Homo sapiens: one gene and its partners. The protein of the gene in region 1 interacts with the protein of each later gene in a pairwise test. Each region holds a gene or a part of one and is shown in the gene's direction. Other genes may lie near its edges.

What was found.
Region 2: the proteins of HEXD (region 1) and RILPL2 interact in a two-hybrid assay, tested with the Homo sapiens proteins (one large-scale study listed by BioGRID and IntAct).
Region 3: the proteins of HEXD (region 1) and GDPD2 interact in a two-hybrid assay, tested with the Homo sapiens proteins (one large-scale study listed by BioGRID and IntAct).
Region 4: the proteins of HEXD (region 1) and PSD interact in a two-hybrid assay, tested with the Homo sapiens proteins (one large-scale study listed by BioGRID and IntAct).

Annotation. Positions count from the first base shown.
Region 1 is NC_000017.11:82,422,773-82,430,444, forward strand, and holds part of HEXD (hexosaminidase D), read left to right. Parts: intron 1-1,621; coding exon 1,622-1,731; intron 1,732-2,552; exon of another isoform or gene 2,553-3,832; intron 3,833-4,603; exon of another isoform or gene 4,604-4,738; intron 4,739-5,257; exon of another isoform or gene 5,258-5,355; intron 5,356-5,480; exon of another isoform or gene 5,481-5,536; coding exon of another isoform or gene 5,537-5,622; intron 5,623-5,785; coding exon 5,786-5,873; intron 5,874-6,661; exon of another isoform or gene 6,662-7,640; intron 7,641-7,672. UniProt on the Homo sapiens protein: Has hexosaminidase activity. Responsible for the cleavage of the monosaccharides N-acetylglucosamine (GlcNAc) and N-acetylgalactosamine (GalNAc) from cellular substrates. Has a preference for galactosaminide over glucosaminide substrates.
Region 2 is NC_000012.12:123,412,033-123,418,777, reverse strand, and holds the end of RILPL2 (RILP-like protein 2), read left to right. Parts: intron 1-2,856; coding exon 2,857-2,887; 3' UTR 2,888-3,739; downstream 3,740-6,745. UniProt on the Homo sapiens protein: Involved in cell shape and neuronal morphogenesis, positively regulating the establishment and maintenance of dendritic spines. Plays a role in cellular protein transport, including protein transport away from primary cilia.
Region 3 is NC_000023.11:70,427,139-70,434,810, forward strand, and holds the end of GDPD2 (glycerophosphoinositol inositolphosphodiesterase GDPD2), read left to right. Parts: coding exon 1-81; intron 82-174; coding exon 175-325; exon of another isoform or gene 326-774; intron 775-2,354; coding exon 2,355-2,576; intron 2,577-2,776; coding exon 2,777-2,925; intron 2,926-3,835; coding exon of another isoform or gene 3,836-3,988; intron 3,989-5,168; coding exon 5,169-5,316; intron 5,317-5,440; coding exon 5,441-5,523; intron 5,524-5,773; coding exon 5,774-5,802; intron 5,803-5,895; coding exon 5,896-5,948; 3' UTR 5,949-6,243; downstream 6,244-7,672. UniProt on the Homo sapiens protein: Has glycerophosphoinositol inositolphosphodiesterase activity and specifically hydrolyzes glycerophosphoinositol, with no activity for other substrates such as glycerophosphoinositol 4-phosphate, glycerophosphocholine, glycerophosphoethanolamine, and glycerophosphoserine.
Region 4 is NC_000010.11:102,406,219-102,413,890, reverse strand, and holds part of PSD (PH and SEC7 domain-containing protein 1), read left to right. Parts: coding exon 1-122; intron 123-1,315; coding exon 1,316-1,510; intron 1,511-1,663; coding exon 1,664-1,744; intron 1,745-2,071; coding exon 2,072-2,184; intron 2,185-2,774; coding exon 2,775-2,833; intron 2,834-2,943; coding exon 2,944-3,033; intron 3,034-4,613; exon of another isoform or gene 4,614-4,996; intron 4,997-6,624; coding exon 6,625-6,668; intron 6,669-7,672. UniProt on the Homo sapiens protein: Guanine nucleotide exchange factor for ARF6. Induces cytoskeletal remodeling.

The DNA of each region.
Region 1 (7,672 bases):
TGGGCCAGGCGCGGTGGCTCATGCCTATAATCCCAGCACTTTGGGAGGCTGAGGAGGGTGGATCACCTGAGGTCAGGAGTTCGAGACCAGCCTGACCAACATGGTGAAACCCTGTCTCTATTAAAAATACAAAAATTAGCCAGGCGTGGTGTCAGGTGCCTGTAATCTCAGCTACTCGGGAGACTGAGGCAGGAGAATTGCTTGAACCCGGGAGGCGGAGGTTGTGGTGAGCTGAGATCGTGCCACTGCACTCCATCCTGGGGGACAAGAGCAAAACTCCATCTCAAAAAAAAAAAGAAAGGAAAGGCGTTCTGACAATTGAATATAGGCAAAGAAGATCCAACTTACACACAGCTGGAGTCCCTGTTTCCATCATCTGTTGCTGCGTGACAGATCTCCCCAAACTTGAGGTCCCCATTCATCACCCCTTGTGTTTCTGTGGGTTGGCTGCGTGATTCTGCTTTTCTGACCGAGGTGCCCTCAGGTGGTCACAGCCCCGTAACATCTAGAAACCTCTGATGGTCCGCGTGGCCTTCCATGTCCGGCAGTTCATCCCAACTGTCAGCTGGGGCTCCTTAGTTCTCCTGCATGTGTGTCATCCAGGAGGCCTAGCATGTGCCTGTAGTCCCAGCTCCTTGGAAGGCTGAGGCTGGAGGATCACTTGAGCCCAGGAGTTGGGTGCTGCAGCGAGCCATGATCATGCCAGCACGCTCCAGCCTGGGCAACAGAGTGAGACCCCATCTGTTAAAAAAAAGAGAGAGGCCGGGCACAGTGGCTCACACCTGTAATCCCAGCATTTTGGAAGGCCGAGGGGCAGATTACCTGAGGTCAGGAGTTCGAGACCAGCCTGGCCAACATGGTGAAACCCCGTCTCTACTAAAAATACAAAAATTAGCTGGGCATCGGGGCGGGCGCCTGTAATCCCAGCTACTCGGGAGGCTGGGGCAGGAGAATCGCTTGAACCCGGGAGGCAGAGGTTGCAACGAGCCAAGATCACGCCACTCCACTCCAGCCTGGGCGAGAGAGCGAGACTCCATCTCAAAAAAAAAAAAAAAAGAGAGAAAGACAAGGAAGTGGGGAGGAGAATAAGGGGGAAGGGACCCCATGAGTACAGACCAGGAACGAATGAGTTCTGCACCCCTCTCTCACCTCCCCCAGGTGCTGACCCCAACCCTTCAGAGCCCTGCTCCCCCTGCCCCGGCTCCTCCTGCCCCGTCCCCCATGCCTTGCCATTCTCCTTCAGCCTGGCTGCCCTGTCCCCCATGCCTTGCTGGTGCCCCTCAGCCTGGCTGCCTTGCTGGGCCGCCGTGCATGAAGAGCTGCTTCTTGGTGGCTCCCTGCTGGCCGGACCCGTCCCTCCCAAGCTGAGCCACCAGCGCGTTGAGTAGCAGCCCTGTTTCATAGCATATCTCCCCTTCTGTGCAAAATAGTCACTGGAACGGGGAGTTTCATTTGGCATAACGTAAAGTACACATTCCGGATTTAAGGTTCCCAGGAGAAATAGAAGTAGCAACTCCCACAGTCTCCACAGGCTGAAAGGGAAGGCGTCTCCCTGCTGTGGACTTGCCACATCGTGCTCCAGCAGCCACTTCTTCCTAACCCCTCCCTGTTTACCCCCCAGATTTTTCCTCTGTTCCGTGCGCTAGGTGCAAACGGCCTCCTCATTGAGTATGAAGACATGTTTCCCTACGAGGGCCCTCTGAGGCTGCTGAGGGCCAAGTACGCCTACAGGTAACACTGCCCGTGGCAGGTACAGGGGCGCGGCGTGAAAGCGGGGAAGGGGGGGTTCCGCAGGGCAGGAGGAGCAGCAACCTGGAGGTGCGGGTGGCACAGTCAGGAACTGAACAGTGGTGGGTACATTCCTTTTTTGTCTTTTTAAATTCATCTCTTTAATTGTATGAAAACAAAGTTTCATTTCAAACATTCACTGGAGAGAATTTTGAAACATTTAAAGGGAAAGTAAGCATCAGCAGCGCCCCCTACAGGGAAGAGCTGCAGTTCCTGTCTCTGTCCTGCAGGCGTTTCTTCTGTTGATGGGAGAAGGCTGGACTACAGAAGGTTAGAGAAGGTTAGAGAAGGTTAGAGAAGGCCAGAGAAGGAAGGCCAGAGAAGGCTGGGCTAGAGAAGGCTAGAGAAAGCTGGAGAAGGCTAGAGAAGGCTGGAGAAGGCTGGAGAAGGCTGGACTACAGAAGGTTAGAGAAGGCCAGAGAAGGCTGGGCTAGAGAAGGCCGGAGAAGGCTGGAGGAGGCTAGAGAAGGCTGGAGGAGGCTGGAGGAGGCCAGAGAAGGCTGGAGAAGGCTGGAGAAGGCTGGAGGAGGCTGGGCTAGAGAAGGCCGGAGGAGGCTGGAGGAGGCCAGAGAAGGCTGGAGAAGGCTGGAGGAGGCTAGAGAAGGCTGGAGGAGGCTGGAGGAGGCCGGAGAAGGCTGGAGGAGGCTGGAGGAGGCTGGGCTAGAGAAGGCCGGAGGAGGCTAGAGAAGGCTGGAGAAGGCTGGAGAAGGCTGGGCTAGAGGTTAGAGAAGGCTAGATAAGGTTAGAGAAGGCCAGAGAAGGCTGGGCTAGAGAAGGCTGGAGGAGGCCAGGGAAGGTCAGAGGAGGCTGGAGAAGGCTGGAGGAGGCTGTAGAAGGCTGAGCTAGAGAAGGCTGGAGGATGCTGGAGGAGGCCTCCGCGCAGGGAGGGGCTGCTCTTCAGGCCACAGTTGAGCCTTGAGTTAGAGAAGAGAAGAATTAAAGGGGAGAGAATCAAAATCAATAAAATCAGGTGTGGTGGAGATGGGAGGCCCCTGCTTAATGCTAAAATCACAGGTCTCTGTGAAAATCAATAACGGCCCCAAAGATAAATGCACAATGGACATTAACTGGCCAATCCCAAAGGAAGAAACAAAAAAGGCCAATAAGCATATAAGAAAATGTGAAGGCCAGGAGCAGTGGCTCACGCCTGTAATCCCAGCAATTTGGGAGGCCAAGGTGGGCAGATCACTGGAGCTCAGGAGTTTGAGACCAGCCTGGGTAACATGGTAAAACCCCATCTCTATGTGAAATACAAAAATTAGGCCGGGTGCAGTGGCTCACGCCTATAATCCCAGCACTTTGGGAGGCCGAGGTGGGTGGATCACTTGAGCTCAGGAGTTCGAGACCAGCCTGGGCAACATGGTGAAACCCCATCTCTACATAAAATGCAAAAAATAGCCATGGATAGTGGCATGGGGCTGTAGTCCAAGCTACTCAGGAGGCTGAGATAGGAGGATGGCTTGAGCCTGGTGTTAGGTTTTTTTAAAGGGAAGGCGAGGGTTAAAGAAAGACAGAGAGAGAGAGGGCGTCTCTACAGCAACAGAGGTATAGTGCAGAAACCTACAGAGGGGGGACCAGCTTAATGCCAGAGCCCACCGCCGCTTACAGGCTGGGGTACTTACAGGCCTGGACGGGAGGGGTTTGGGCAGTAGGGCTTCTGCCTGGGAAGATGTTGAGAGATGTTCCCATGATGAGGCAGTTGGGTCCTTGTTCCCAGCAGAATATGATCAGGATGTTCCTTCAGCTGGGCCTTTGCCCAGCAAGGTATGTTCGGGATGTTCCTGGGCCGTGTGGTCGGGTGGTCGGGATGTTCCTGGGCCGTGTGGTCAGGATGTTGGGCAGGATGTTCCTCACAGCCCAAACCCCGTGGAATGTTTCACTTCAACCTGGGTCTGGAAAACAGCAGGGGGCTTACAAAATGGTGCAGTTTGGATTAACACCCAGGACCCAGAGGCTGCAGTGAGCTGAGATGGCGCCACTGCACTCCAACCTGGGCAACAGAGCCAGAGCCTGTCTCAAAAGAAAAGGAAAGAAAGAAAGAAAATGTTAAACCCTCATAGTACTCAAATCAAAGAAACTAAATCAATAATGCAACACCATCCTGGCTACCAAACTGGTAAGCCTTTTTTAAAAATTATAAGACTTGGGCTGGGCGCTGTGGCTCACGCCTGTAATCCCAGCACTTTGGGAGGCTGAGGCAGGCGGATCATGAAGTCAGGAGTTTGAGACCAGCCTGACCAACATGGCAAAATCCTGTCTCTACCAAAAAAAATACAAAAATTAGCTGGGCGTGGCCAGGCGCGGTGGCTTAACGCCTGTAATCCCAGCACTTTGGGAGGCCGAGGCAGGCGGATCACAAGATCAGGAGATCGAGACCATCCTGGCTAACACAGGTGAAACCCCGTCTCTACTAAAAATATAAAAAATTAGCCAGGCATAGTGGTGGGCGCCTGTAGTCCCAGCTACTCGGGAGGCTGAGGCAGGAGAATGGCGGGAACCCAGGAGGCAGAGCTTGCAGTGAGCTGAGATTGCGCCACTGCGCTCCAGCCTGGGCGACAGAGCTAGACTCCGTCTCAAAAAAAAAAAAAAAAAATTAGCTGGGTGTGGTGGTGCGCACCTGTAATCCCAGCTACTCAGGAGGCTGAGGAAGGAGAATTGCATGAACTCAGGAGGCAGAAGTTGCAGTGAGCCGAGATCGCGCCACTGCACTCCAGCCTGGGTGACAGAGCAAGACTCTGTCTCAAAATAATAATAAATAAAATAAATGAAAAATTGTAAAGACTGTGTTGATGAGAATGAGAAAGAGGAAAACTACCTGCTGATGAACATAATATGACATCTGTTCTGGAAGGACTTCGGTTCCATGTGTCAAAACTCCAAAATGCCTGCACCCCATGCAGCCCACATGTGGTTAGACCAGAAGTGATGAACGGTGAGCCAGGGTGTTGGCCTGCAATGAGATAATCAGGTGCGATGAGATGATCAGGTGCGATGAGATGATCAAGTGCGATGACATGATCAGGGGTTTGCATTTTCTTCATACTCTTCTAGTTTTCTTCCTACAGTGAAGACATTTTGTCTTTTGATGTGAAAAAGTAAAGTACCAGGGTTCCTTCGAAGCTTGAAACAGGAATGTTTAAAGACTTTATGTAACTCATAAATCTATAGAACGGATTAGCCTAAGATGGTTCAAACACATACAAAAACTAGAAATAGCTTTTTTTTAGATAAATTCATAAATGACAGCTCATGTAAAGCTTGTGAAAAACGAAGAGGTCGACCCGGGGCAGTCAGCCCTTCCCAGGATGTGGCCCTTCTGCAGAGGACGGGCGCCCCAGGATTGTTTCAGGTTGAGGACCCTGTGGTGGACCTGCCCTCGGGCAGCTGCTGACCCGGCTCTGGATGGAGTGTGGCACCTTCTGTAGCATTTTTATTTTTTTTTGAGACAGAGTCTTGTTCTGTCTCCCAGGCTGGAGTGCAGTGGTGCGATCTTGGCTCACCGCGAACTCTGCCTCCCGGGTTCAAGTGATTCTCCTGCCTCAGCCTCCCGAGTAGCTGGGATTACAGGTACATACCACCAGGCCTGGCTAATTTTTGTATTTTTAGTAGATACGGGGTTTCATCATGTTGGCCAGGCTGGTCTCGAACTCCTGACCTCAAGTGGTCTGCTGGCCTTGGACTCCCAAAGTGCTGAGATTACAGGCGTGAGCCACTGTGCCTGGCCTTGAGTAGTTTCTTGTAAAATGTGATGACTTCATTCTCTTGTCGTGGGTTGAAAAGCGAACCATTACTTGAGGACGTGCTAGAACATCATCTTCCCAAATTTTGGAGCAGGTACCTTTCCAGAAATCAGGATACCTGTCAAGCTTTGTGGAGTTTAGGGCCTTACTGTTTCCCGGAGAGCCCCCCAGGGCCTGATGAGGAAGGGCTGGGGGGGTGGGTGTGGAAGTCACGTGCTGCTCACATGACCCTCTCTCTATGAATTTTGTCTCTCCAGCCCCTCTGAAATCAAAGAGATCTTGCATCTGGCTGGACTCAATGAGCTGGAGGTGATTCCCTTGGTGCAGACATTTGGACACATGGAGGTGAGTGGCAGAAATGGAAGTTACCTGGTGCCAGGTGTGGGGTCCAGGGGCTGCAGGCTGGGCCAGGCTTGTGCCCAGGGGTGGGTGCAGCGGGCCCATGGTTGGGGTGCAGGCAGCGCAGCTCAGCACAACATGGAAAGGCCTTTGGTCTAGGAAGTCCCTGCCTGACTCGGCCAGAGCTGCAGGTTGGGGCTGCCTGTCTGCCTGAGGAATGGAAGGAAAGAGCCAGAAAAGGGGTCCTGGAGGCAGTTTCCTTTTTCACTTGTATTCATCAGAATATTATTATGTGAGGTAAAACACAGTATTAGGGAAAGAAAAGGTGCTTTTCAGGCCAGGTGCGGTGGCTCACACCAGTAGTAATCCCAGCACTTTGGGAGGCCGAGGCTGGTGGATCACCTGAGGTCAGGAGTTCGAGACCAGCCTGACCAACATGGCGAAACCCCGTCTCTACTAAAAATACAAAAATTAGCCAGGCATGGTGGCGGGCACCTGTAGTCCCAGCTGCTCGGGAGGCTGGGGCAGGAGAATCACTTGAACGCAGGAGGCAGAGGTTGCCATGAGCCAAGATCGCACCACTGCACTCCAGCCTGGGTGACAGAGCAAGACTCCGTCTCAAAAAATATATATATACACATATTCTTTTTCCTGTCTGCATCAAACAGGAAGTGATGCGGCATTAACCACCACACCGATTTAATGGCTCTTAGGTTCCATTTATTTCTCTAACAGATACACCATTCTGGCTTCTATTTCCACACACCGCGGGTAAGAAGGTTGTTTTCACTTACACATGTCGGTGTTCTGGGCGTGCCACCGGAGTTCCTTCCCACAGCTCGGTCCTCCAGCCTTTCTAGTTGATTCTCTCCATCGTACTCTGCTCTGGGACCCGGCCTGCGCTCTTAGCCTCCTGCCACGTATCCACAGAATGTCTCTGCCAAGGCCGCCAGGGTCCTCCAGGTCACTAAGTCCAGGGACGGTTTTAGTCCTTTCCTGCTGGGCCCCTCGGTAGCTTCTGGCATCCCCAGCCGCTCTCCTGAGCCCCACACTTTCTGGCTTCCCTCTGCCTCTGACTGCACCTCCTCGATATCCATTTGCATTTGTCTCTCTGTAGCTGGCGGTCCCCAGGGCTCCTCTCGGTCCCTGTCCCCACCTCCCACTCTCTCTCTAGATGGTGCCATTTCTGCTCCTGCTTTCTCTTTGTCCTCCTCTTCGTCTTCCTCTTCCTCTTCTGTCTGCACCTCAGCAACTCCAGACCTCCTGGGTTACAGACCCTCATCCCCAGCTGCCTGCTGGTCGCTTCCATTGAGGGCCCTCCTCCAGCCTCTGGTGTGCAAACCAGAAGCAGACCAGCCACAGTCAGCACCACCACCCGCCACGCCCTGACCCATGTTGGTCCTGCTGCTGCTCCTCCTCCTCTTCCTCTGTCATGCAGGCACCACCCCTGTCTAAACCACTATGGACTCACCATGAAACTTTCCTAATGGGTCTCCCGGGGCCACTCTGCCCCTCCGTGCCCCTCTCCCCACCACAGCAAGTCACAGCACAGCCCTGACCACTCACACTCGCCATCTCCTCAAAGGACACTGCTGTCAGGGCAGAAGTGATCGCCACAAACCAGGTGGCTTAAGACAACAGAAATGTTCTCTCAGCCCTGGAGACCAGACATCCAAAATCAGCGTGTCGAAGGGTTGGTTTCTTACTGAGGAAGACCCTCCATGTGTACATTTACTATTAGTATACCCTTTTTGTGTGTTTGTTTTTGAGACAGGGTCTCACTCTGTTTCCCAGGCTGGAGTGTA
Region 2 (6,745 bases), on another chromosome or scaffold:
AAAAAAAAAAAAAAAAAAAAAGAAAGAAAAAGAAAAAGAAATCAAGTCAGTGGTTCTTGGATGAAGCTCAGAAATCTGGATTTTTTTCAAAAGTTCCTTGGACCACACTGATATGTGCCCTCTTAGTTGCCAGGTGTCAGGACAGTAGGCTGCAGCTTTCCTGTACTCCATTCATTCAACAAATATTTACTGAGGGTCTGCCATGTGCCAGGCACTGTTGTAGGTGCTGAAGATACAGCAGTGAACAGAACCTAAAGTCTCTGGCTCGTGGACCTTACATTCTAGTAGAGGGAGTCAGAGAGTGAACAGGTAAAGAAATATATTAACAGGACAATTTCAGATAGCTATATGTGCTATGATCACAAATAAGGGGACAGAACGGGAGAGAGAGGACTACTTTAGATTTGGGTTATCTTTTATCACAGCAGTGGGAAAAAAAACACAAGAAAATCGAGTTGGGAAGTCCTGGAAGGCTTCTGTGAGGAGGTGACATTCAAACTGATCACTGAAGTACATTAAAGACCGGAAGGAAGAGCATTCCAGGACAGGAGCAGTGGCTCATGCCTGTAATCCCAGCACTTTGGGAGGCCAAGGCCAGAGGATCGCTTGAGCCCAAGAGTTTGAGACTAGCCTGGGCAACATAGAGAGCTTTTTTGTAGAGACCTCATCTCTACAAAAAAGAATAAAATTAGCCGGGTATGTGCCTGTAGTTCCAGCTACTTGGGAGGATCTCTTGAGCACAAGAGGTCCAGGCTACAGTAGGCCATGGTCACACCACTACACTCCAGCCTGGATGACAGAGCAAGATCCCGTCTCCCACCAAAACAAAAGAGCATTCCTGGTAGACGGGACAGTAAGTGTAAGAGCTTCAGGCTACAGAAATTCCCAGAACAGGCCAGGCACAGTGGCTCACGCCTGTAATCCCAGCACTTTGGGAGGCCAAGGCGGGCAGATCACCTGAGGCCCAGAGTTCGAGACGAACCTGGCCAACATGGAGAAACCCCATCTCTACTAAAAATACAAAATTAGCTGGGCGTGGTGGCGCATGCCTGTAATCCCAGCTACTCAGGAGGCTGAGGCAGGAGAATTGCTTGAACTCTGGTAGGCGGAGGTTGCCGTGAGCCGAGATCGTGCCATTGCACTTGAGCCTGGGCAACCACAGTGAAACTCTGTCTCAAAAAAAAAAAGAAATTTTCAGAACAGAAGACCATGGTGACTGGAACAGGGAAGAGAATGGAGGTGGGATTGGAGAGGTGGGAGGGGCTGGGTCACCCAGGGCCACGTGGATTCTTTCTGGTGCTGACTGTGGGTTTTATTCTAGGTACGTTGGGAAGAGACATTGGATGGTTTTAAGCTGGAGAGTAACATGACCGTATTTATGTACAAAAAGCTCACTCTGGTTGCCTTGTGGAGAAGGGTTGGGAGACAGGGTCAAAGTAAGGCCAATGGGGGTGTTTCTTTTTTCCTTTTTTTTTTTTTGAGATGGGGTCTCACTCTGTCACCCAGGCTGGTGTGCGGTAGCTTGATCTCAGCTCACTGCAACCTCCGCCTCCCAGTTTCAAGCGATCCTCCCACCTCAGCCTCCCGAGTAGCTGGGACCACAGGTGTTCACCATCATGCCCAGCTAATTTTTGTATTTTTGGTAAAGATGGGGTTTCTCCACGTTTCTCAGGCTGGTCTGGAACTCCTGAGCTCAAGCAATCCGCCCGCCTCAGCCTCCCAATGTGCTAGGATTACGGGTGTAAGCCACTGCACCCAGCCTAATGGAAGTGTTTCTTCCACAAGGAAGGGTCTTCTGAGGTAAGATAATGAAAGAGCACCTCCACCCAGGTGTCCGAAGTGAAGGTGTTCATTTAGGACTTTCATTGGCTGTCTTGTTGCAAATCAGGCTTCCAGAAGGCATAAACTACTGGTTTCTTTCAGCGTCCTTCTACGGGAGCTTAGGACACCTAATTGGAGTTTGAGCCTAATAGAGCAAAAGTGAAATGTGTGTTCTGTGCATGAGCTAGCCTGAGGACATGTGGCTAGTGGCTAATGAGCGTGAGGCCACCCTTTCAGGGTCAGATAAACTTAATGAGCTACTAGAATCAATGAGTGAATGAATGAACGAATGAATGTGTTTTTTTGTTTTTGTTTTTGAGACGGAGTCTCAATCTGTCACCCAGGCTGGAGTGCAGTGGCACCATCTTGGCTCACTGCAAGCTCCGCCTCCCGGGTTTATGCCATTCTCCTGCCTCAGCCTCCCGAGGCAGCTGGGACTACAGGCGCCCGCCACCACACCCGGCTAATTTTTTGTATTTTTAGTAGAGACGGGGTTTCACCGTGTGAGCCAGGATGGTCTCGATCTCCTGACCTCATGATCTGCCTGCCTCCGTCTCCCAAAGTGCTGGGATTACAGGCATGAGCCACCGCACCCGGGTTTTTTGGGGTTTTTTTGCTTTTTCTTTTTCTTTTGAGATAGTGTCTTGCTCTGTCGCCCAGGCTGGAGTGCAGTGGCGCAATCTCGGCTCACTGCAACCTCTGCGTCCCGGGTTCAAGCGATTCTCCTGCCTCAGCTTCCTGAGTAGCTGGGATTACAGGTGTATGCCACCACGCCTGGTTAATTTTTTTTTTTTTTTAGAGATGGGGTCTCACTATGCTGCCCAGGCATGTCTGAGACTCCTGGGATCAAGTGATCCTCATCCTCTTGCCTCAGCTTCCCAAAATCATAGGATTACAGGCGTGAGCCACAATGCCTGGCCTGGACATATTTTTGAGTCAACAGCTGCAAGAGCTACTTAGAAATTTTACGGGGGTTGCTGTGCCCCTTGCTTTGTTCCTTCTGCTTACCCTGAACCCTCTCTCTCTCCACACCAGGTTCTTTTTTCGATCGGGGAAACAGACCTAGATCCAAGGCCACAAGTAAGGCTATGGCTCTGATTCTAGAAGACAACCTTCCAAGATGCCTGGCAAAACCACCTCCCTGTGCCACACAGACACACTAGGCCTGTGTATTTATTTCCCCTTCAAAGCAGACTGAGGAGGGAGGAGACGAGGTTCTCTTGGCATCACTTTCTCCCTGGCTGCAGAACTAGACACCCTTGAAGATTTGGCCTGGGCCAGTGAGACTGAAATCAAGAAAAACAGAAGGGATGTGCAGGGTGGGGGGGTCCACTTCCTGCTCCCATGTCAACCCCCAGGGCCTCCAGCGTGCAGACGCGTGTCCTACTCATCTGCTCCCACGGATGACCCTGGTCTTCAATGGTTAGCAGAAGGGAGAAAAGAAAGCAGGAAAATGTGCTATTGAGATTCCAGTGGTGACTTCACTGATATTTAGTGAATATTTGATTTAGCCAACATGCCTTTCTTTATGTGATTTTGTATTAAAGTAAAATGATTTTTATACTTTCTATAGCTTATCTAGAGTGGTCTCTTAGTTACGATGGTACACATGGTATATGTGTGTATATGTCATATATCTACATTTCATTGTATAATGAATCAATTGCATTCATTCAGTCTAAGCGATGCACGATTATCTGGTGTCACTATGAAGGGAAAGATTGCTGCAAACTAAAATGTTAAGAAGCTATCGATTTTAGGACTCATCCTGATTTCAGAGGTGTTAAGATGTGAACAAAATGCATTTAGGAATCAATGAAACAGAGAGCGGGTGTCTGCACTTCGCAAAGGAACTAATGAGGCTGCCGCAACCATTCCGTGAGCCTGTCTTCTTAGTAAATAACAGTGGCTTACTCAATGTGTTTCGCCTGCTCTGTGGATTATCTCATTTGTTCCTCATAACCTGGGGAGATGGGGACCGGTACCGGTGCACCAGTTTATAGATTTTTTTTTTTTTTTTTTTTGAGACGGAGTCTCTCGCTCTGTCGCACAGTCTGGAGTGCAGTGGCACGATCTCGGCTCACTACAAGCTCTGCTGCCTACGTTCACGCCATTCTCTTGCCTCAGCCTCCTGAGTAGCTGGGACTACAGGCACTTGCCACCACACTCGTCTAATTTTTTTGTATTTTTAGTAGAGACAGGGTTTCGCCGTGTTAGCCAGGATGGTCTCGATCTCCTGACCTCGTGATCCACCCGCCTCAGCCTCCCAAAGTGCTGGTGAGAGGTGACAGCGTGCTGGCAGTCCTCACAGCCCTCGCTCGCTCTCGGCGCCTCCTCTGCCTGGGCTCCCACTTTGGCGGCACTTGAGGAGCCCTTCAGCCCACCGCTGCACTGTGGGAGCCCCTTTCTGGGCTGGCCAAGGCCGGAGCCCGCTCCCTCAGCTTGCAGGGAGGTGTGGAGGGAGAGGCGCGAGCGGGAACCGGGGCTGCGCGGGGCGCTTGCGGGCCAGCTGGAGTTCCGGGTGGGCGTGGGCTTGGTGGGCCCCGCACTCGGAGCAGCTGGCGGGCCCTGCCGGCTCCGGGCAATGAGGGGCTTAGCACCCGGGCCAGCGGCTGCTGAGGGTGTGCTGGGTCCCCCAGCAGTGCCAGCCCACCGGCGCTGCGCTCGATTTCTCGCCGGGCCTTAGCTGCCTTCCCGTGGGGCAGGGCTCGGGACCTGCAGCCCGCCATGCCTGAGCCTCCCACCCCCTCCGTGGGCTCCTGTGCGGCCCAAGCCTCCTCCACGAGCCCCACCCCCTGCTCCATGGTGTCCAGTCCCATCAACGACCCAAGGGTTGAGGAGTGCAGGCACAGGGCACGGGACTGGCAGGCAGCTCCATCTGCAGCCCCGGTGCGGGATCCACTGGGTGAAGCCAGCTGGGCTCCTGAGTCTGCTGGGGACGTGGAGAACCTTTGTGTCTAGCTCAGGGATTGTAAATACACCAATCGGCACTCTGTATCTAGCTCAAGGTTTGTGAACACACCAATCAGCACCCTGTGTCTAGCTCAGGGTTTGTGAATGCACCAATCGACATTCTGTATCTAGCTACTCTGGTGGGGCCTTGGAGAACCTTTGTGTCCACACTCTGTATCTAGCTAATCTGGTGGGGACGTGGAGAACCTTTGTGTCTAGATCAGGGATTGTAAACGCACCAATCAGCGCCCTGTCAAAACAGACCACTTGGCTCTACCAATCAGCAGGATGTGGGTGGGGCCAGATAAGAGAATAAAAGCAGGCTGCCCCAGGCAGCAGTGGCAACCCGCTCGGGTTCCTTTCCGCATTGTGGAAGCTTTGTTCTTTTGTTCTTTGCAATAAATCTTACTACTGCTTACTCTTTGGGTCCACACTGCTTTTATGAGCTGTAATACTCACCCCGAAGGTCTGCAGCTTCACTCCTGAAGCTAGGGAGACCAGGAGCCCACCAGGAGGAACGAGCAACTCCAGACGCGCCGCCTTAAGAGCTGTAACACTCACCACGAAGGTCTGCAGCTTCACTCCTGAGCCAGCGAGATCACGAACCCACCAGAAGGAAGAAACTCCGAACACATCTGAACATCAGAAGGAACAAACTCTGGACACGCCACCTTTAAGAACTGTAACACTCACCGCGAGGGTCCGCGGCTTCATTCTTGAAGTCAGTGAGACCAAGAACCCACCAATTCCGGACACACTGGGATTACAGGCGTGAGCCACCGCACCCGGCTTTTTTTTGGGGGGTGGTGGGGACGGAGTCTTGCTCTATCGCCCAGGCTGGAGTGCAGTGGCACCATCTGGGTTCACTGCAATCTCTGCCTCCCAGATTCAAGCGATGCTCCTGCCTCAGCCTCCCGACTAGCTGGGACTATAGGTATATGCCACCACACTGGGTTAATTTTTGTATTTTTGTAGAGACGGGGTTTCACCATATTGGCCAGGCTGGTCTCGAACTCCTGACCTCATGATCCGCCCTCCTCGGCCTCCCAAAGTGCTGGGATTACAGGCGTGAGTCACCGTGCCCGGCCAGTTTATAGGTTTAGAAACTGAAACTCTGGCTGTGGAGCTAGGAAGCAGCTTGCCCAGGAGGCAAATGCAGGCCTGATTCCAAGGCCCGGGCGCGGAGCTGCCAAGCTTTATGGGTCCAGAGTCACTGGCAAGTCCTAATAATAGTAATAATTTACTGTATGCCTCGCCTGCATCATTCTAAGTACCTTTCCGATGCTGTCTCACATACTTTTGTGGGATGGGTATCACTATTGTCCTTGGGGTCCTCCCAAGGAGGTTAAGGCATAATGGGTGAAAAGTCTTGTCTAAGGTCCTCAGCTAGAAAGTGGTAGAAGCAGGACTTGAGCCCAGATACAAAGTCCACACACAGGCTTCAACCACTCTGCCTTCCAGGAAGAGCTGGTAGTGTTTAAGAGTCTAGTCCAGAACACTGTCTCAACAGCATCATTAGATCAGGGCTCCTAATCCCTAGAACCCTGTGTAACACTGCAACCCTGGCCAGGCATAGTGGTTCAAGCCTGTAATTCCAGCACTTTTGGAGGCCAAGGTGAGAGGATTGCTTGAGCCCAGGAGTTCGAGACCAGCCTAGGCAACATAGTAAGAACCTATCTTTACAAAAAACAAAAAATTAGCCAGGCATGGTGGTGAGCACCTGTAGTCCCAGCTCCTGGGGAGGCTGAGGCGGGAAGATTAATTGAGCCCGGGAGTTTGAGGCTGCAGTGAGCTATGATCACACCACTACACTCCAGCCTGGGTGACAGAGTGAGACCCTGTCTCCAAATATATAAATGCTCCCCTGCCTCCCTGTGGGGATAGATAGGGTAAGAGAACCCACTCAGAAAGAAAGGTTAAGATGGCCTGGGTGGCTGTGGTACCCCAGGAGACTAAAAAAAGTTACGGTGAG
Region 3 (7,672 bases), on another chromosome or scaffold:
GGCTCCCGAGAACACCCTGATGTCCTTGCGGAAGACAGCTGAATGCGGAGCTACTGTGTTTGAGACTGATGTGATGGTCAGGTGAGGGAAGCTGGGGCTTAGGGGATCTGGGGGGCTGAAGGACATGATGACCAGCCCCAGAGCTTGGCCCTCTGACACCCCTTGTGCCCTCAGCTCCGATGGGGTCCCCTTCCTCATGCATGATGAGCACCTCAGCAGGACCACGAATGTAGCCTCTGTATTCCCAACCCGAATCACAGCCCACAGCAGTGACTTCTCCTGGACTGAACTGAAGAGACTCAATGCTGGATCCTGGTTCCTAGAGGTGAGGACAGCCTCTGCAAAGAGGCAGCCATCTGCAGGGACACTCAGAGAGGGCAGAGTTCATTCTGTTGATAAGCATTTGCTCAGCCCTGTGCTAGGCAATAAGAACATAGTCTGTGCTCTCAAGTCACTTCCACCTAGTAGAGAGCCTAGGCAGCAGACGATTCAGGAAACCCAGAGCAATAAAAACATTTTCCTGCCTGGGAGAGAATCAGGAGTGGATTCATACAGGAGAGGATGAAAGTCTTCTTCTAAGATGCACAAAGCAGGGAACAGGAACTCCTTCAGAGGGAAGAGGACACGTAAAGCCCAGAAGTCTGAAAAAGGGTGTTTCCAGGAATAAAATGTGGCTGAATGTAACTGAGAGAGACAATTCATGGGAGTGGTAGGGAGCAGAGGCTTGGCCTTGAAGAGCTCCGAATGCCTGGCCCAGAAGTGTCAACTTCAATCCTGTAAGTGGTACAAAATATTTAAAAGGATATTGAATTTTTTCAGTTCCTCTTCCCCTGATTGTAAAAGTAATACATGTTCATTGTAAAAAGTAAAACATCAGAGAAATAAGAAATAACATAGAAATCAAAGTCTCCCATAATCCAGTCCCTCTGAAATATTCACTGTTAACAGTTGGATACACACACACACACACACACACACACACTCACACAGTCCCCGACTTATGAGGTTCCACTTAATGATTTTTTTACTTTATGATGATTTGAGATTGATATACATTCAGTAGAAACTATACTTAAGAGTACCCATACAACAATTGTTTTTCATTTTCAGTACAATATTCAATACATCACATGAGATATTCAATACTTCATTATAAAATAGGCTTTGTGTTAGATGATTTTTGCCTAACTGTAGGCTAATGTAAGTTCTGAGCACACTTAAGGCAGGCTAGGTTAAGCTAGGATATTCAGTAGGTTAGGTATATTAAATGCATTTTTGATTTTCAATCTTTTCAATTTAAAATGGGTTTATCAAGACACAACTCCATCATAAGTCAAGGTGCATCTGCATACACAAACTCTCTCTCTCTCTCTCTATTTTGCACAGACAGAATCATTACACAGACTCTTTTGCAATTTGCTTCTTTTCCATTTAACTCTTTACATCATATCAGATCAGAGTGATTAACAGCAAAGGATGTCTGGGTTTAAACCCTGGCTATACCACTTACTGGCTGTGTGACCCGAGGCAGGATTTCTTAGTCTCTCTGTGCCTCAATTTTCTCATTTGTACAATGGGAATAATAACAGTACCTACCTTGTAGGGTTATTGGGAGGATTAAATCAGTCAATGCACATAAAGTACTTAGAACACTGCCTGGCACATAGTAAGTACTTAATAAGTGTTAGATAGCTAGCTTTATCCATGTCAGCAATTAGGAAGTGAGGTCATTCATTGAGAATAAGGAGAGGAGAGTAGCAGAGGCTTGGAATAACACTAGGGGGAATGGGAGAGGGAGCAAATCAAGAGCAAGTAAAAGGATTGTTAAGCAGCGCTGAGAGCGAAAAATAAGGACTGCAGTGCCAACAGCCCACATTGTGTACTCTGCCCATGGCAGCGCTCAGCCCCCAGTTCTAGGGGTGGAGGAGGCAGACAATTGTAGAATTGAATCAGAGTCTGGGAGTTGTAGGGCAAGTGGGACAGAAAGGGAGCTGAGAGTGCTATGGAAAAGTAGTTCAAGCTGTGGATGGACCATGGGTAAGGGATGTAGGTGCAGCTAGAAAGGGGCTGATGAACTGGGAAGAAACCAAAGGGTCAAGATTGCAGAGGTCTCCTTGAGACCAAAGAGAAGGTGTAGTGGGAGAGAGAAAGTTAGGAAACTGGAAGGGTAGGAGGTTGAGGTCACAGAGTAAGATGGTAGACGGTCTGGAAGAAGGCCACAGTTTGGAAAAAGGCCCTGGCTCAGAGGTGGAAAGAAGCTGGACACCAAGTGGAAGATATGAGTGAAGATAGTGAGGATGGGGGCAAGGCCTGGAAGCCTCTTCTGGTCTTGAAATAATTGTTCTTTCTTATAGAGGCGACCCTTCTGGGGGGCCAAACCGCTGGCAGGCCCTGATCAGAAAGAGGCTGAGAGTCAGACGGTACCAGCATTAGAAGAGCTATTGGAGGAAGCTGCAGCCCTCAACCTTTCCATCATGTTCGACTTGCGCCGACCCCCACAGAACCACACATACTATGACACTTTTGTGATCCAGACATTGGAGACTGTGCTGAATGCAAGGGTGCCCCAAGCCATGGTGATGTTGCCAGGACCCCCTCTCCCCACCCTGCCTTCCCTAGGCCATGATGATGAGGATGATTTTGAGGCTGCCCCTACCCCCAGGGCCCTGCCCCAGCTCACATACCCCATTCTGTGGTCAAAACTGTTTGCCCCTGTCCCTGCCCTTGGAATCCCTAGGTCTTCCCCAGCTTCACACCCATCCTTCCTGAACCACAGGTCTTTTGGCTACCAGATGAAGATCGGGCTAATGTCCAACGACGGGCACCTGGAATGCGCCAGATATATGGACGTCAGGGAGGCAACAGAACGGAGAGGCCCCAGTTTCTTAACCTCCCCTATCAAGATCTGCCACTATTGGATATCAAGTGAGTGCTAGAGGAAAGGAACCAAGGGGATCACATGAGGCTTAATGGCAGGGAAGAACCAGTTCAGGGAGAGCAAAGCCTCTTGATTCATTCACTCACACAAAAAGTATTTACAGAACACTTGCCATGTATCAGGTAGTATTGCAGGCTTTGGGGAAACAACACAGATAAGACAGACAAGGTTCCTGCTTTTGTGGAATACATGTACTACTGAAGAAAACAGAATAAACCACTTAACAAAATACATGCATATTGAAAAGTGAAAAAGTGTTATGAAGACAAAACAGAGAGATGTAGAAGAGTGGTTAGGTTTGGGAGTGATGGGCTGGGGCAGGGAGGTGGGTGCACCCACATTAGGAAGGCTGGTTAAAGAGGTGATATCTAAGCTGAGACCTGAATGGTCACAGGGAGCTAACTATGAGCTGCAGAACAGGAACAGCAGTCTAATGAGCAAGGGGAAGGGGAAGCTAGAGAAGCAGGCAGGGGCCAAATTGGGTAGGACCTTGTAGGCCACGGGAAGGATTTTATTCCACAACAGACATCAGGGTAAGAGAGCGTGAATCAGGGAGAGTCCCAGATGTGAGCTGAGCCCCAGAAGCTGACCCAGCTGAACCATGACAGACTTCAAAGCATCTGGTTGCTAAAGCCTCTTATAAGGTCCTTGTGTTCAGATAGAAAAATGTGAACTGAATGATAGCCCAGTTATCATACATATTTCTTTTTTTAATTTGAATTTTAATTAAAAAAATTTTTTTTAGAGATAGAGTCTCACTCTGTCACCAAGCCTGTAGTGCAGTGGCCTGATCAGAGCTCACTGCAGCTTTGAACTCCTGGGCTCAAGTGATCCTGAGTAGCTAGGACTATAGGCACACACCACTATGCAAGGCTATTTTTTTTTTTTTTTTTTTAGAGACAGGTTCCTACTACCTGCCCAGGCTGGTCTCAAACTACTGGCCTCAAGCAATCTTCCTGCCTCGGCCTCCCAAAGTGCTGGGATTACAGGCCTGAGCCACTGCCCCCCTCAGCCTCCCGGTTATAAGCATGAGCTATCTCACCTAGCTATGTAAGTATTTATTTCCCCGAGTTATCACCAAAGAGGAAGACATGACATAGGGTTTGGTTCTCACCTTAGTCTTGTCCTGGTCAATATCAGCTGCTAATCAACTGCTGATCATGTTTCCAAAAGATGTGAATTGGTATTGAATACACTGATGATGGAATCGAGGCCCTGAAAGGTCTAGGTGCTGTAAAAAGATAGGCCAAATCTAGCAAGATGAAATGCACCAGGGATAGATGGAAAGACCTCTATTTGGGGCCCAAAAGAATTTCAGTTGCACAAAGACCAGAGAGGAGACACTGGCATCAACAGGAACATGTGTGAAAAAGACCAGGGCTTTCATTGAACAGTATACCTAGTGAGTCATCAGTGGGATGTAACATTGCCGAAGGCTAACCTGACTCTGGACTACCTGAATACAGGCATAGTGCCCAGAGGACAGGAGGAGATAGTTTTGCTCTATTCAAAGGTGACCCAAGCTGGCTGGGCATGGTGGCTCCCACCTGTAATCCCAGCACTTTGGGAGGCCAAGGCAGGAGGTTCACTTGAGCCTAGGAGTTCAAGACTAGCCTGGGCAACATAGCAAAACCCCGTCTCTATAAAATAAAATAAAATAAAAACCAGCTGAACATGGTGGTGCCCACCTATAGTCCCAGCTACACTGGAGGCTGAGCCTAGGAGGTCAAGCTGCAGTGAGCCAAGACTGCCACTGCACTCCAGAGCAAGATCCTGTCTCAAAAAAAAAAAGGCTGGTCCAAGCCCATCTGGGATATTATTTTCAGAGACGGGCCCCATATTTTCAAAGGAACATTGATAAATTGGAATATATCATATTAGAGAGGCTTGTACAGGGAAGGAAATGATAAGAGTAATGGCTGAAGGAGCTGGGGCTGTGGGGCCTAGAGAAGAGAAGGCTCAGGGAGACAGGGCCTCTGCTCAGGACCCAGGGGAGAGACACATTGTGTGGCCCCAGATAGCAAAGCTAGGACCCATGGGTGGAATCCACCAGAAGACAGAGTTCAGCTATGAAAGGAAAATCATTGTTGGTCAGGGGCTGCTATGGAAAGGCAGAGCTGATACCTCCTTGGCAGTGGCACTGTAGATTCAAGCACAGGCAGGGGGCTGCCTCCCATGTCCTGTGCACCATGATTCTGGACATTCCCTATTTTCTTTCCCACCTTCACAGGGCATTGCATAAGGATAATGTCTCGGTGAACCTATTTGTAGTGAACAAGCCCTGGCTCTTCTCTCTGCTTTGGTGTGCAGGGGTGGATTCGGTCACCACCAACGACTGCCAGCTGCTGCAGCAGATGCGTTACCCTATCTGGCTTATTGTAAGGGCTCTGGGACTGTCACCTCTCCTCTTCTCCCATCCCTGGTTTTCCTTAACCCTGTCCCTCTCTTCCTTACTTATTTCCCCTGACATTCTACCCTTGGGGCCTTTTCCTATTTTCACAGACCCCTCAAACCTACCTAATCATATGGGTCATTACCAATTGTGTTTCCACCATGCTGCTTTTGTGGACCTTCCTCCTCCAAAGGTGAGTGCTTTGTGCCTCAGCTTTCTGGGTCCTTACTTTCTCCAGGGCCCTGGTGATGAGGCTGCTTCAGACTCACATATGCTGCCCAAGGCTTGGGGTCTCTTTAGTTCCTTTGAGATTCTTAGGCCCTTCCTTATACTATCAAATTGGCTTGAATGTAGGAAAGGCAGTTGGGGGGAGCAGGTGTGGGGGCTGGAAGGGCCTGCTTGAAGCTAGCTGAACTCATAATGGGAAGCTTTTCTCCCCACAGAAGATTTGTTAAGAAGAGAGGGAAAACTGGTAAGAACTTTCTCCCCTCACCTCATGTTTCTCCTCCTGTAGCTTTCCCCTTGCTTAACTCCCTAGATGACCCACCCTCCCCCTCCTCCCCAGGCTTAGAAACAGCAGTGCTGCTGACAAGGATCAACAATTTCATGATGGAGTGAATGCCCTGCCCTGCTTCCCCACCCAAGCCAGTCTACATTGCCCAAACAGCAAGGGTTGGAGAGTGGCTTAAGTGGAATGCTTCAGGGGTGGTGGGTTGCAAGTGGGGGGAGCTTTGCCAACAGGAGGTTTTGAACCATGAGGGCCCTCTGCCCAGGTGATGGGCATTCCCTAAGCTGCTATGGAATCTGCTCCCTTTGGGGTTTTGACCTGAGATGTTTGGGAAGAGAGTGAGTAATGAGAAGTTTCTCCTCAAATGAAACTAGAACAGAGGAAGTAAAAGGGAGATTGCTCGGATAATGTCTCAGACTTGTGTGCACGTGTTCTTGCATAGAAGGCACAGGGTGTGTCGGGGTGGGATAGCTTGGAAGAGGGACTGAAGGAGATAACGAAATGGTCTTTTCCGGAGAACTGTAAGATGATAGAGACACCATCGCCACTCCACGATGTACTGTCTTCCTCGACCCTTGCAGCTTAGCTGTTTTCCTGCCTAGAGGCTAGGAGCTGAAGAGCCCGTCTAGCCGTGTAATTCTGTGCTTACAGGTGGCTTTTTGCTGTGCGCAGCCTTTTCTTCAAGGCAGGTTGGTTCCTGTATCTTGTCTTAATCTGTTACTCAACGAATGTAATCTCCATTTGGTCACAGCCTAATCTTTTCGGCCCAGGGGCTGGGGAAAGGAGGCACCTTCCATCTACGGTTGGATGGGACACGACCTTGAGGGGCCATCAGGGGGAGATGGGAGGAGGTGGGTTGGAGGTGGGAGGAGAATCACCTGCGGCAATGAAGGACTCGCGGGAGGCTCGCGGGAGGCCCGCAGGAGAGCAGCCACCTCGGGGGCGTCCGGAGGCCGGGCGCGCGGTGCAGGGTTGCACTGTAGCTCCACCTTGTGGCCGCCCCAAGAGGAGGGCCGCATCCGTCGTCGCCGTGACGTATTTGCTGAATGCCACCTGTTTTCCGTGCCGCTTGGGGACTCGTGTCCTTGACTCAGGACTCCGAGGGCAAGGTCCGATTTCCACAAGTTTTCGCTCCTCTGGGCTGCGCGCAGGGTCCAATTTCCGGCCCAGCCTTCCCTTGGAGGAGCAAGTTCCCCAATGTGTTTGCGGCTCGGGAGTCCCTGGGCTCCGCAGCTAAGGTGGCCAGTGCGGAGCTGACGGAGGATGAAGAGTCTAGTAGAAGAAGGGAGGGGCTAAGCCAAAAATGGGGACAAGAGGGGCTCTGTGGTGACCCCACAGTCTTCCGCCACACCCACATTCGACCTAGTTCGTATCTCCACACGGAGGGAAGTAGAACTAAGGAGTCGGCCAGGTAGGGAGGTCGGGTTCTCGGTTCCTCCTCTCTCGCCAGACTGGGACCTGGGGCAGCACTGGCATCCTCGGGACAAGACCCGCCCCCCACCCTCGGTTGCCGGGCAGCCGCGGGAACTACAATTCCCAGTGAGTCCCCGGCCATTTCCGGTATCTGGCTGGACGCAGGCGAGTTTGAATCCGTGTTCCCGCCCCCTTCTCCCGGGCCCACCCCTTTCCTTTCTGGCCGCCCCGCCCTCTCCGTGCGCATCCCTGCACACTCCGGCTCCGGAGGCCGGCCGCGCCCACGTACCTGACCTGCAGCTGGCGCGGTGGGCGGGGGTGCCAGCATGCGACGCACGGGGAGGCTGGAGGCGCGCGGAGAGCGAACGCCGCAATCCGGTCCTGGTCCTGGTCTTCCTGGGAGTCCACGCCGCTGTGTACC
Region 4 (7,672 bases), on another chromosome or scaffold:
TGGACACAGAGAGGGGAGGAGGAGGAGGCAGAGGCCAGAGCCAAGCTGGCCCCAGGGAGGGAGCCCCCTAGTCCCTGCCACTCAGAGGACAGCCTTGGGCTGGGGGCAGCACCCCTTGGCAGGTAAGTAATTCCTTTTGTCCCTCAGACTTGAGGCCCCCAGGGCTCCAGAAACAGCTGCTGTAAGGGACAGATCCTGAGTGTGAGGATTGGTTTATATTCCTGACCCCTGAGTAGGGGTGGTTAAGGGATGCAGATCCTGTTTTCCTATTTGGAGGACTACTGCCATTAGCTGTGAGGGAGAGTCCCTCACAGCACCCCTCTTGGTCTCAAGTCCAGTGGCTTGAGAAAGCATGATTCAGCATTGAAGGATCCCAGGAGAATACCCTTCTTGCTCTCCTGGAGGGCCCTTTCTTCCCTTGGCAGAGTCTTTAGCCTGCTCAGAATTCTTGTGACCTTACCCTCACCCAGCCTGAAGGCTTCACCAAAGATGCAGCCACCAGCCTCTCCCACTGCCTCCCTCCCATGTCACCCCTGCCTAATCAGGCATCTCTCGTCCAGCTCCAGGAAGTCCTTTCACAGTCTAACCTTTCTGCTCTCCCCTCTGCCAGCTACCCTCTCAGTCATGGAAGCCATGGCAACAGGAGGGGGTGGCCAGGGAGACCGGGTTGCCTAGCAACCAGGAGTTTCCGGCCTCTGTCTCTGGGCTGACAGGTGGCTTTGCGAGTAGAGCAGCTGGGGTGGGAAGGGGAGGAAAGAAAGGGAATGAGGGTATGCACCCCGACCCTTAACCCCCTAACTCCAGAGCCTGCTTCTGTGTGGGCAGAGGGGGAGCACCAAGGAGAGGTTCCTCTCCCTAAAAAGCAGGAGGGGGAAAGCCTTCGGACCAGTATCCCTGCTGCCCTCAAATCTTTCCCTGGCCCTCCACAGTTCCTCCGTGGTAGCCCATCTATTCCAGCTTTGTCCATAGTCTAAGAGACAAAGGACTATGTTCTGTGTAGGGCCAGGGTGGGAACAGATAATCTATGTCTAATAGCAAATGTAGGCCCCTGGGAGCTTGAGGAAGCAGCCAGAACTCCCACAGCAGCAAGACGGATGTGGGTTAGATTTGAGGCAGGACTTCCACAGAGAGGTGGTAATGATGGAGTAGGCTGATGGAGAGAATCTAATCTCCTTCCCTGGAAAAAAGAAGAATGCTTTCCCCATGTCCCTCCACTCCCTCCCCTTCTCCATCTTCTGGGCCTGGAGGCAGAAGGAGGGTCTGGATGGCTCCTAAGGACCCTGCCCCAGCCTGAGCTGGTGTTCTACCCCGGCAGCGAACCACCCCTGAGCCAGCTGGTGTCCGACTCAGACTCAGAGCTGGACAGCACAGAGCGGCTGGCCCTGGGAAGCACAGACACCTTGTCCAATGGGCAGAAAGCGGACCTGGAGGCTGCGCAGCGCCTGGCCAAGAGGCTGTACCGACTAGATGGCTTCAGGAAGGCCGATGTGGCCCGGCACCTGGGCAAGAAGTAAAGCCACTAGGCTGGGACTGAGGATGGGGGCAGAGGGAATGCATCCTGAAGGCAGCTCTCCATCTAATGTCCCCTGGTCATTGGGTAATCCCCACCTGACCCCCTGCACTTCCCCTTGAGACCCTACCTGTCTCTCTGCCCTGCCCACAGCAATGACTTCAGCAAACTGGTGGCTGGGGAGTACCTCAAGTTCTTTGTCTTCACGGGCATGACTCTGGACCAAGCTCTCAGGTGGGTGTTGACCCCTTGGAGGACAGCCCCCACTCTCCGGGGTTCGTGTTAGGGCCCCAGGATGCCTCCTTTGAGCCCCTCTGTCCCCCACAAGCCGTCCTGACATCACCCTTCCCAAGATGGCTGGGCATGGCCAAGGGCCAGAGCTGCCTGGTAAAGGGACCTTGGGTAGGGGTGATGGGTGGAGGGTCAGGGTGCATACCCTCATCCCCTTTCTCTCCTCCCCTTCCCACCCCAGCTGCTGTACTCTCAAAGCCTCCTGTCACCCCAGAGACAGAGGCTGGAAACTCCTGGTTGCTAGGCAACCCTCTCTTGCCCCTTCTCCAGGGTGTTTCTGAAGGAGCTGGCCTTAATGGGTGAGACCCAGGAACGAGAGCGCGTGCTGGCCCACTTCTCCCAGCGATACTTCCAGTGCAATCCTGAAGCCCTGTCCTCAGAGGGTGAGGAGTTCCGAGAGCAGGGGTGTCCTTAGCTGGCCACAGTGGCAAAATGGGCTGGGCCCTGTGTGTGTGTACAGGAGCATGAGTGTGTGTACAGCAGGGAATGGATGTACATGCGTGTAGGCATGTGAACTTGCATGTGTGCAGACAGCGCTGTCATGGCTGCATGTATGTGGAACTATACATGTGGGCAGGCATATTGCTAGGGTTGAGTGTGTTGTGAAGAGGCAGGAGTTTGCATGCCTGTGCAGGCCAGTGCTTGGCTGGAGAGGGGATTCTGTTTGGCTGCACTGGTCTACAGGACTGTGCTGCGGTTCACTTTCTCGTGGTCCAGGCTTAGAGGCAAGGGAACGTTGGGGCAACTAGTACGTTGGGGCAACTAGCCCTCAGTACTTGAGGGAGCCAGGGACGGGTCCTTGCTGACGGATCTGCTGGAAGAGGAGCTCTTTGTGGGGAGGGTTTACTAGCGGGGTTCAGGAGGTAGGAAGTTGCCGGCCAAAGGGGGTGGGGATGAAATGGGAGGTTGGGGAAGATGGCTGTGGGAAGGGTCCCTGGGAGGCAGCCAAGGCTGAAAGTCAGCTCTCCCCTAGACGGCGCCCACACGCTGACCTGTGCGCTCATGCTGCTCAACACGGATCTCCACGGCCATGTGAGTGGAGGCGGGCGGGCAGGAGCCGGAAAACAAACCCCTGGCCAGACATGCAGGACCTGGGAGGCCAAGGGCCCTCCAAACTCACAGGCCTCCGTTCCCTTCCTTAGAACATCGGGAAGCGCATGACCTGCGGGGACTTCATCGGGAACCTGGAGGGCCTCAATGATGGCGGCGACTTCCCTAGGGAGCTGCTCAAGGTGGGGGGCGGGGCAGGGTAGAAGTCGCTGGAGGGGAAGGATGGAGGACCCAGTCGGCGACGGAGTCCAGAGTCGGAGGGAGGGCAGGGCTGGGGCTTGCCGACCCCCGGCTCCTGCCACGGAAGCCCGGGCTCTCGTGACTCAGCCTGGGGACCGCCCCCTCCCCAGGCCCCACGCGCAGGCTCTCCCGGAACATGCGCACATGCGTGCGGTCGCGACTGCGCACGGCGGGGGAGGGGACCCGGCTCTGGAAAACGCGAGCAGGCGGCCCCGGCCCCTGCGTTTGCCTTCAGTTCCCCTCCTCCAGTGTGCGCTGGGGTGGAAGGCGGGAGTTGCGGGGGTCCCTGCACGGGACAGGGATTGGATGGGGGTACACTCCACACTGCTCCCCCGCCGCGTGGACAGCCAAAAAGACCTTCCCGGTGCTGCTGCGCTGCAGGAACCCGGAGGGAGAGGGGCCTGAGAGGGACTAAGCTTTTCCAAGGTCTGGCAGCGAGTTAGCGCAAAGCTGGAGCTAGAAACTGCTTTCTGGCTCCCTGTGAGCAGGTCCCGTTCCCAGGCGCCAGCTCCATGGCCCGCAACCGAGGGCTCAGATACGTAGGGGCTGGTGCCGGTAGGAGAAGGGAGTGGCTCATCCAGTGGGTTCACTCCTCTCCCTGATCTGGTGGTAGTTTATCTAGAGAGGCCTGGACTCACTTGAAGAAACCCCCAGGCTAGGACAAAGGTGTCTCTGCTCCACTACATACATGTAACAGCACAGGATTGTCCTAGGGCGTTTCTGTGAGCTTGGGGTGCTGGGCTTCTGAGTTTGGGGTATATCTGAGAGGGAACGTCCATGGTGAGCTGGGGTGTTGCTTGAGTTGAGTTGCATCTGTGTGCCCGGGCGTCGTGAATCAAGGGTTTGTATGGCTTGGTGTGTTTGTGCTTTAGGGCTTACGATTCAGAGTGTGTGTTTGAGTTGGGGTGTAGGCTGGATGTTTATGTGTGGTGGGGTTTACATCTTCGAATTGGCCGTGTCTGAGGTATGCCATATGCCTCTGAGTAGGGGGTGTATCTTTGTGAGCTAAAGATTCTAAGTTTTGAAGTGTCCATCTGAATGGGTAGTGTCTGCGAGTTGGGGTGACCGTGAACTGGTGCGTCTGGTTTGTTGGGGTGTATGTCAGAATCGAGGTGTGTTACGTGACTTCAGATCTATATATGGGTGGGGTATCTGCGGGTGAGCTGGATGAGGCCAGGGCTGTTCCTTCCCTGCCTCCGTCCTCCCTCGAGGCCCCTCTTGGCTCAGTGGAAAAGGGCTGCAGGGAAGCGGTCCGACCTCTCCCCTCCCACCACCCCAACCCAGACCAGCCAGAAGGGAGTTCCAGACCCTGCCGGGTCCGCCCAGCGTCACAGCCCCAGGCCTAGCGGTGCTCTCAGCCTCCCTGGAGCTGCCACCCACGCTGGCCTCCCCAGGCTCCTCCCCGTGGCCGCGCGGGGAGGGCCCCCTTCGCGATCGGGCGCCTCCATTTCATGCGGTCCCCGCCCCCAGCCCTCGCCCTCCCTTTCCCGTCGGCGCCCCCCTCCCGCTCTAGCCAAGCCGCAGAGCAGACAGCGCCGCCGCCGCCGCCGCGCACTCCGTGCGTCCGTGAGAGCCGGGCCGGCTCGGGCCGGGCCGCGCCGCTCGCGCTGGCTGTCGGGGGAGCGGTCCGCGGGCCGTCCGGGCGGCCCGGGGGCCGAGGGCGGACGGGGGCATGGCCGGGGGCCGCGGCGCGCCGGCCGGGCCAGCATGATCGGCGTCAACAGCATCCACAGCAGCGCCGGGCGGCTGCGCTCGCGCTCGCTGTGCTCCGTGCGCTACGGGCGCACCCACCGCGGCGCGGAGACCCTGTGCTACGGCTGGCCGCAGCGCTCGCGCAGCCTCAAGCCCGTGCTCTACACCGACCTGGTGGTCAGCCGCCTGCAGAGCCGCAAGAAGAAAAAGGCGGTGAGGGCGTTGGGGCCGCGGCCCACGCCAGGTTGCGGGGCGACCGAGGGGGCGGCTTGTGGGAGGCACCGAGGGCGGTGCCAACCGAGGGCGGAGCCTGGTAGGGACAGAGGTCATGGGCAGCCAGAGGCGGGCACGGGCTGGGGGGGCAGGGAGGGCACAGACCCTGGGGCCAAGGTGGGCCTCAAAAACCGAAGAGGCTTTTCTAGATTGAATATGACTTGCGGCCCACCGATGGGGTTCAGGGCCCTCGAATGAGGTGTGATGGTGGGCCGAAGGGGGTCCTGAGACAGGGCAGGGGATGAACTAGAAGGCGGGAGGCAAGGATTGCAGGTTGGATCTTGGTGGCCACTTCCGCTTTCTGGCCAGAGAGTTGCGGAGTGAGGGTTAAGGGTCTGAGCCATGCTGGGTTTCGTCTGGGTGTGTGCTGGAAGGTCTATGTGTTGATTTGCCTTGGTTGTGCTGGGGGCGGTGGAGTGGGGGTTGGAGGCTGTGGGGTACACCCATCCCCAGATAGGGTGTGAACAGTGTGTGCCCAGTTGGGATGCCTGGTTTGCCTTGTGGCTGGGCATGGCTGTGGGCAGTGAGAGAGTCAGAGACTGTGGTTTGTTGGGAGGAGTGAAGGGGAGGCTGTGTCCCATCACAGGGAAGGTGCCTACGTCACCACTGCACCCAGCTCACATGCAGGCAGCATCACACGCCACACACTTAGCCCAACATGCACATGCTGGGGACACACCCACTCACGGACAGGCTGACGGAAGTACCCCACAGTTGGAGGTGCTGGCGTGGACCCATATTCCAGACCACTCTGGAGAAGAGGGGACCCCATGCCACTCCTGGAGCCTATTCTCTCTTCTGACCACCCCAGGACCCCCAAATGTCCCCAGGCCAACTGCACAGAGGGGAAGTGGCTGGTTCACATCGCACAGAGTTTGGGCTATGCAGGGATTGGAAGCTAAAACCACTGCTTTTTAGAGGAGTGTTCACTCTCCAGTGACAAAGTGTGCACGTGGGCAGGGCGTTGGACCACCCTGGCATTTGGCTTGGTGGGGCTGTCAGGGTTAGGGGGAGGCCTCAGCTTGTCTTGGTGTTGGGAGCCATGATAGTGTATTCTCTATTAGGGAAGGAAAGTGCTGAGAGGGCGAGTCCCCTATCCTGGGGTCGCAGTTTCCCCATATGCTATGTGTGGGCTCATCCTGTGGAAACAGGCCAGAGCGCGTGGTTGGGGGAAGGGGAATTTCTTGGGCTGCTTTTCCCGTTCCCTCCAGGGCTGTGCTTCTCCAGCCCAGGATCTGAGCAGGACAGCCCCTTAACAACAATAAAGATAATAATAGCAACAACCATTTACTGTGCGTCAGCCTTGTGCTGGGATGCCCTGTGCTAACTGCCTGTGCCCACATGTTACTACGTTTGTTCCTCTCCATGGATACTTGCCCGAAGTCATGCAGCTCAGGTGGTGGAGCCGGGTCTGGGTCTCCATTCTGGAGCCTGTATTTTTGGTCATTATATCTTGCTGCCCTTTCCCCTTAGTTCTGGCTCATCTCTCAAGTTAGAGGGGAAGGCTCTAAGCTCTGACACTGCGGTACTGACCCACAACCCCCTAATTTGTTCCCCCCACCCCCCAGGCCTTGTACAGCTCCATCAAGAATGAGAAGCTGCAGTGGGCCATGTGAGTCCCGGGGCTGCGTGGTGGGGCTAGGATGGGGCATGGGGAAGGGGCTGCCTGGGGAGGCTGAGAGAGCTGGGGTAGGCCCTGGGTGGGGGTAGGGGAGGGGAGTGAGAGGCCATGAGAGGCAGTGAGGCTGCCTCACTTCCTTCTTTGGAGATGTCTGCCTGGATTTGGGGTTCTGTATCTTGTCTCTAGCTGGGTTGTTATGACAAGTGGGTTGGGGTGGGAGGAGAGGTGCTGAAACATCAAAGGGAGGTCCCCTGGCAACCTGAGTGGGAAAGCAGAAGCCTCTGGAAGCAGGGCCTTGACCAGCAGCACAAGAGGCCCTCACAGGTCCTAGGGAGCCCAGATGTCACAGAACAAAACAAGTAACCATGCTGTCTGTTCTTGGAAGGCTCCAATAGAAACATAGATACTCGGCCAGGCGAGGTGGCTCACGCCTGTAATCCCAGCACTTTGGGAGGCCAAGGCGGGCAGATCACGAGGTCAGGAGATCAAGACCATCCTGGCTAAAACGGTGAAACCGTCTCCACTAAAAACACAAAAAATTAGCCGGGCGTGGTGGCACGCACCTGTAGTCTCAGCTACTCAGGAGGCTGAGGCAGGAGAATGCTGTGAACCCGAGAGGTGGAGCTTGCAGTGAGCCGAGATCCCGCCACTGCACTCCAGCCTGGGTGACAGAGAGAGACTCCGTCTCAAAAAAAAAAAAAAAAAGAAAAAAGAAACACAGAGACTCATAAGTAAGTCTTGGAAGAGTCTAGTCTTCTAGTCTGAGGGAAGAAATCCAGTTTGGGCCTTGGGGTCCCCAGTCTGAGGGTAGAGGCCTTATCTTCACAGTTCATAGATCATTCAAATTTGCCGTTATCCACTGAGACTCCCTCACTGTCCAGTTAGCTGGGAGTTCCCAGTCATTGGAGATCTCAGGGGAGGTGCAGCTCAGGATTAGGGTGCAGGGGGAGATCAGGGAAGGCTTTTGGAGGGTTGAGACTGGGGCCATGAAGTTG